2 linked regions of the Homo sapiens genome follow. The protein of the gene in region 1 interacts with the protein of each later gene in a pairwise test. Each region holds a gene or a part of one and is shown in the gene's direction. Other genes may lie near its edges.

What was found.
Region 2: the proteins of CUL9 (region 1) and PLXNB3 interact in a two-hybrid assay, tested with the Homo sapiens proteins (one large-scale study listed by IntAct).

The regions. Positions count from the first base shown.
Region 1 is NC_000006.12:43,222,602-43,225,355, forward strand, and holds the end of CUL9 (cullin-9), read left to right. Parts: coding exon 1-40; intron 41-177; coding exon 178-295; intron 296-662; coding exon 663-796; intron 797-1,493; coding exon 1,494-1,567; intron 1,568-1,648; coding exon 1,649-1,844; 3' UTR 1,845-1,986; downstream 1,987-2,754. UniProt on the Homo sapiens protein: Core component of a Cul9-RING ubiquitin-protein ligase complex composed of CUL9 and RBX1. The CUL9-RBX1 complex mediates ubiquitination and subsequent degradation of BIRC5 and is required to maintain microtubule dynamics and genome integrity.
Region 2 is NC_000023.11:153,767,249-153,771,056, forward strand, and holds part of PLXNB3 (plexin-B3 isoform 1 precursor), read left to right. Parts: coding exon 1-665; intron 666-1,000; coding exon 1,001-1,180; intron 1,181-1,699; coding exon 1,700-1,828; intron 1,829-1,913; coding exon 1,914-2,014; intron 2,015-2,558; coding exon 2,559-2,691; intron 2,692-2,843; coding exon 2,844-3,000; intron 3,001-3,089; coding exon 3,090-3,198; intron 3,199-3,279; coding exon 3,280-3,394; intron 3,395-3,509; coding exon 3,510-3,635; intron 3,636-3,716; coding exon 3,717-3,808. UniProt on the Homo sapiens protein: Receptor for SEMA5A that plays a role in axon guidance, invasive growth and cell migration. Stimulates neurite outgrowth and mediates Ca(2+)/Mg(2+)-dependent cell aggregation.

The DNA.
Region 1 (2,754 bases):
CCTCAATGATGCCTGCCAGGGACTGGAGCAGGCTCGGAAGGTGGTAGCGGGTGGGGGAAGAGAGCAGGGGAGGGGTGTGCCAAATGGGTCTGGGGGGCTTGGCTGCTTTCATCGGACTTGCCTGGGTGAAGGGAATGAGGAGAGGGCAGGCGGGAGAGCTGATGGGAGCCCCTGCAGGTGCTGGCCTACGCCTGCGTGTACAGCTTCTACAGCCAGGACGCAGAGTACATGGATGTGGTGGAGCAGCAGACAGAGAACCTGGAGCTGCACACCAATGCCCTGCAGATCCTCCTGGGTGAGCCACCCCTGCCAGCCAGGCCCTCCTCCTGCCTCCTCCCCTCTGTTGCACAGCCCGGCCCCTCCCAGACAGGTCAAGCGGCACCCTTACCTTCCCTCTCTCCTCTTCCTCTTCATTCTTCATGGCCTTCTCACTGCCTGGCTGTTAAAGCTCAGGTCGAAAGCCTACATTGTAAGGTGCCCAAGGGCGCAGATGTTCGTGGATGTTTCTTGGTTTCTGGTCTTTACCCTGCTCCCCTAGGGAGCTTCATGAGAATGTCTAGAGCTGCACCTGGTGCTTGGTAGACGTTCCATAGGTGTTTGTTGGAGGAAGGAATGGATGAGAATGAGAAGGGAGGGAGCCTCTGTGCCTGCCCCCTCTGCAGAGGAAACCCTGCTGCGGTGCAGAGACCTGGCCTCCTCCCTGCGCCTCCTGCGGGCCGACTGCCTCAGCACGGGCATGGAGCTGCTCCGGCGGATCCAGGAGAGGCTGCTTGCCATCCTGCAGCATTCTGCCCAGGTACTGCCCGGCCCAGACCCCTTCTGCTCCTGCATTCTGCGGGAGTTGAGGTCCTCCTGTCCCAGCACAGCCCCTGCCCTGGGGCGAGTCCAGAAGGAAAGGCAGCAAAGCGGGTGAATGGATGTTAGACCTGGGCGCACATCCCGGCTTTTGGGCCAACCTGCCTGATGCTGCTGGACCCTATCACTTCACCTCCTGGGGATTCCTACAAAATAAAGGGGTTGGCTAGCCCACATCAAGGGTATTTGGTCAGGTGCCTATCAGAATCACTTGGGGAACTTTTCCAGACTGTACTTCCCAGATAGGGATTTGAAATCCTAAGAGTGGGCATCAGGGGATTGGGGTCACTGGAGCAAGGGCTCTCCCAGGCTCTCTCCAGCTCTAATGCACTGATGCTGAGTCTAAACTGTGAGTCCTGTCCTCAGGTTGCTTACTGACTGGTAAGTCACATGGGCAGAAAAGACATAGATTCTGTAAGCTCTTTAAGCACAGGGTCGTGTGCCTCACCTGGTACCCCGTATCCCTGGAGACCATCTGTGGGTGAACTCACAAAGGCAGTGTTTCATGAAGTGCTGTGCTGGGAGGGGAGCAGTCCTAGCAGGAGCTTGGCCCTCCCAGAGCATCAGTGGAAGGAATGCTGGGTCCAAAGGCCCCATGCCCTCTACCTCCTTCTCAAATCCTTCTGTCTGCTCACCAGGATTTCCGGGTTGGTCTTCAGAGTCCATCAGTAGAGGCCTGGGAGGCAAAAGGACCCAACATGCCTGGCAGTCAGTAAGTGGGGTGGGCAGAGCCATGGAGGAGGCAGTGGGACATGGCAGCCTCCTCTGGGCTGAGTGTGGTGGCTCTCCCTAGGCCCCAGGCCTCCTCAGGGCCAGAGGCAGAAGAGGAGGAGGAAGACGATGAGGATGATGTGCCCGAGTGGCAGCAGGATGAGTTTGATGAGGAGCTGGACAATGACAGCTTCTCCTACGATGAGTCTGAGAACCTGGACCAAGAGACTTTCTTCTTTGGTGATGAGGAAGAGGATGAAGATGAGGCCTATGACTGAGGGGGCAGATGCAGGAAACACCTAGAGCAGCCCCAGAGTCACGGGGCTGAGGGGGCGGGAGCTGCCCCTGTCATAGGGAGGGGGATTCCCAGCGTCTGTAGTGCTTCCTGTTTGCTGAATAAAGGTCTCTTTCTCACACACATCTCTGGGAGCAGGCTGACAGCTTCACCAGGGGCCAGCCAAGTTGCCACTGCCCTGGCCTCATATCTACCCACACCCCTCATCTTTATGTTTCCTTTAGACCTCCGGACTCTTCTATCCTCCGAGAAGGCTCAGAGCAGATTCATTTGACTTAAGCTGATAAAGGGAAGTGAAGGTTGGCATGGAAAGGGCCACGTGCAGCCCCAGCCCAGTTCAGAGGAGACAGAGAGAGGGATGGCCACCCACAGGAGCAACCATCCTCCCAACTCTTTTTTTTTTTCTGAGATGGAGTTTCACTTTTGTCCCCCAGGCTGGAGTGCAATGGTGTGATCTCGGCTCACTGCAACCTCTGCCTGATGGGTTCAAGCGATTCTCCTGCCTCAGCCTCCTGAGTAGCTGGGATTACAGGCATGCACCACCATGCCCAGCTAATTTTTATATTTTTAGTAGAGACAGGGTTTCCCACATTGGCCAGGCTGGTCTCGAACTCCTGAGCTCAGGTGATCCGCCCGCCTCAGCCTCTGAAAGTGCTGGGATTACAGGCGTGAGCCACTGTGCCCAGCCCTTCCTCCCAACTCTTTTTTTTTTTTTTTTTTTCTGAGAGGGAGTCTCGCTCTGTTGCCCAGGCTGGAGTGCAGTGGCGTGATCTGGGCTCACTGCAAGCTCCACCTCCCGGGTTCACGCTATTCTCTTGCCTCAGCCTCCTGAGTAGCTGGGACTACAGGCGCTCACCACCTCGCCCGGCTAATTTTTTGCATTTTTAGTAGAG
Region 2 (3,808 bases), on another chromosome or scaffold:
AGACACGGCGCCTTGGGGATGTGGCCGAGGTGCTGTACCAGGCTGAGGACCCTGGTGACGGGCAGTTTGTGGCTGCCAATACCCCGGGAGTGGCAACGGTGGGGCTGGTGGTGCCCTTGCCCGGCCGGGACCTCCTGCTTGTGGCCAGAGGCCTGGCGGGCAAGCTGTCGGCAGGGGTGCCACCCCTGGCCATCCGCCAGCTGGCCGGGTCTCAGCCCTTCTCCAGCGAGGGCCTGGGCCGCCTGGTGGTGGGCGACTTCTCCGACTACAACAACAGCTACGTCGGGGCCTTTGCCGACGCCCGCTCCGCCTACTTCGTGTTCCGCCGCCGCGGGGCCCGGGCCCAGGCTGAGTACCGCTCCTACGTGGCCCGCGTCTGCCTGGGGGACACCAACCTGTACTCCTACGTGGAGGTCCCCCTCGCCTGCCAGGGCCAGGGCCTCATCCAGGCCGCCTTCCTTGCCCCGGGCACCTTGCTAGGGGTGTTTGCCGCGGGCCCAAGGGGCACCCAGGCGGCGCTCTGTGCCTTCCCCATGGTGGAGCTGGGTGCCAGCATGGAGCAGGCCCGGAGACTCTGCTACACGGCGGGCGGCCGGGGCCCCAGCGGCGCAGAGGAAGCCACCGTGGAGTACGGCGTCACGTCGCGCTGCGTCACCCTGCCCCTTGTGAGTGGCATGCCCTTCCATCCCCCCTCTCTGTGGATGGCTGGCATCTTTCAGCACTGGACAGGGGTGCCTGCCCATGGGAAGTGCCAGCCAACCTCTCAGCCAGGGGTCAGCTGAGTCTCCAGGTCTCCTGCCTGCTCTCCACCCATTTCTTTCCACCTTTCTCCCTCTGGATGCTATGAGCTTGCCAGGTGCCCTGGCCCTTCGGCCCTGATTGCTGGGCCTTGGGGTCATCCCAGGGTGCCTGGCTCTCCTCCCGCTGGCAGCCTGGGTACCCCCCCTGACTGCCTCTCTGCTCTCTTCCGGGGGCTGATTCTCCACTTCCTGCCACGTAGGATTCCCCCGAGTCGTACCCCTGTGGCGACGAGCACACCCCCAGCCCCATTGCTGGCCGCCAGCCCCTGGAGGTCCAGCCTCTGCTGAAGCTCGGGCAGCCGGTCAGCGCCGTGGCAGCTCTCCAGGCAGATGGGCACATGATAGCCTTCCTGGGGGACACCCAGGGCCAGCTGTACAAGGTGAGGGCCCGGCCTTGCTGTCCGGCTGGGTGTGCCCCTGGCCACGGAGGCTCAGGAAAGCCCCCAGCAACTTCCACCTCTTAGCCCGCATCCCACGGTTGGGTCAGGGGACTTTGCCACACAGTGACTGCTGGCTGAGCACTGCCCCCTGCAGCCCGGCCTTCACCAGCTGGTGGTGGCTCACGGTGAAGGTGGCTGGGGTGGCTGGGTGAGGTGGGCAGGGTGTGGTGCCTCCTGGTGACCTTCCTGTCTCCCCATAGCTGCCCTCCCACCTGGCAGAACTGTCCCTGGTACACGGGGCCTCACCCAGGGTGCCGCTGCTGCCCCGGTGTCATGGTTCCCTGGAGAGTGTCCTAGGCCTGAGGGTGCTGAGTGGGGGAAGTGATGTGTCCTCCCTCGATGGCCCGGCAGGAAGGGGAACTGGCTCTAAAAAGGAGCCCCCACTAGGAGGAGGGCGTGTCCCTGGAACAGGCAACCTTTGGCCATCTGGCCCAGCCTCGTCCTTGTCCCCCCACTCAGGTCTTTCTCCACGGCTCCCAGGGCCAGGTTTACCACTCCCAGCAAGTGGGGCCTCCAGGCTCAGCCATCAGCCCAGACCTGCTGCTGGACAGCAGTGGCAGTCACCTCTATGTCCTGACTGCCCACCAGGTGAGGGCCATCCTGGGGCTGAAGGGGCCAGCACACGCGGCCCAAGTCTCGTGCCCATTGCCTCTCTGCTCTGCTGCCCCTCCAGGTGGACCGGATACCTGTGGCAGCCTGCCCCCAGTTCCCTGACTGTGCCAGCTGCCTCCAGGCCCAGGACCCGCTGTGTGGCTGGTGTGTCCTCCAGGGCAGGTGAGCACGGGGCCTGTGCCTAGGCTAGGGCCAACGGGTGGTGTGTGCCACGAGGCTGCCCCTGGAAGTAGCCCTAGGCGTGCCGGGAGGCCAACCCTGCCTGTTGGAGAGACTCAGGGCCACCACGGAGGTCACCCATCCTGCCCCATCTCACTGAGCCGTCAATCTGGTTGGCACCCCCCTTTTCCGACACCACCCGGCCTGTGGACTCCTCATCCCAGCAGCCCCAGCCAGGGTCCAGAACCCCACACAGCTGTCCTCCAGCCGGTGCTCCACACGGCAGCCCCTGGAATCCTTTAAGGCAGCCCTGAGTCACTGTGCGTCCCTCAGCCCAGCCGCACCTGCCTCTCAGGGCTGGAGCCCACGCCTTGGCCATGAGGCCCTGCCTGCTTGGCCCCTTTCTCTCTGGACACAGTCCCCTTCACGCCTCCTGCTCATTGCACCCCACTGCACTCCAGCTGGGCCGGCCTCCCCAGGCCCCTGTTGCCGGTCATCCTTGGAGTCTAGGACCCCCACGGTGACCTGATGGACCCCTGCCTGGCAGGTGTACCCGGAAGGGCCAGTGCGGGCGGGCAGGCCAGCTGAACCAGTGGCTGTGGAGTTATGAGGAGGACAGCCACTGCCTGCACATCCAGAGCCTGCTGCCGGGCCACCACCCCCGCCAGGAGCAGGGCCAGGTAAGCCGCCCACCACCACTGGGCCCTCTGGGCAGCATGACCACTGCCTGGAGCATGAACCCCGCCTGCCTCCCGTCCTCCTTCCTCTCCCATGGCCTCTGCTGCCCCCTCTCTCTGGCTACATCTCCCGGTTTCTCCCCGCTGCATCCCAGGTCACTTTGTCTGTCCCCCGGCTGCCCATCCTGGATGCAGATGAATACTTCCATTGTGCGTTCGGGGACTATGACAGCTTGGCTCATGTGGAAGGGCCCCACGTGGCCTGTGTCACCCCTCCCCAAGACCAGGTGCCACTTAACCCTCCAGGCACAGGTGAGTGGCCCATGGGGTAGGGGGCTGGGATGGAGGCTGGAGGGGTAATGAGCCACCTGACCTGTCCTGCCCCCACTGTCCCCTCCCAGACCACGTCACTGTGCCCCTGGCCCTGATGTTCGAGGACGTGACTGTGGCTGCCACCAACTTCTCCTTTTATGACTGCAGTGCCGTCCAGGCCTTGGAGGCGGCTGCCCCGTGAGTCCCTGGGCCTGCCTCCTGGGGTAGGGGTGGCGACCCCAGAGGGCACTCAGTTGAGCAGCCACCCTGCCCCTCTAGGTGTCGCGCTTGCGTGGGCAGCATCTGGCGGTGTCACTGGTGCCCGCAGAGTAGCCACTGCGTGTACGGAGAGCACTGCCCAGAGGGCGAGAGGACCATCTACAGCGCCCAGGAGGTGGGTGGGCCCGAACTTCGGGCAGAGACAGGGCTGTCCCTTCTCCACCCTTCCCAGACCCGCCCAGCAGTAGGCCCTTTGAGTTCTGAAGGGCTGAGGGCTCTTGTTTTCCCAGGTGGACATCCAGGTGCGTGGCCCAGGGGCTTGCCCACAGGTCGAAGGCCTGGCAGGTCCCCACCTGGTGCCTGTGGGCTGGGAGAGCCATTTGGCCCTACGCGTGCGGAACCTTCAACATTTCCGAGTGAGCCATCAGGAGGGAAGGGGACAGGGCAGTGAGGTCTGCCAACAGCGTGTCCACACTCCTGACAGCGTCCTTCCCCAGGGCCTGCCTGCCTCCTTCCACTGCTGGCTGGAGCTGCCTGGAGAACTTCGGGGACTGCCGGCCACCCTGGAGGAGACAGCAGGGGATTCAGG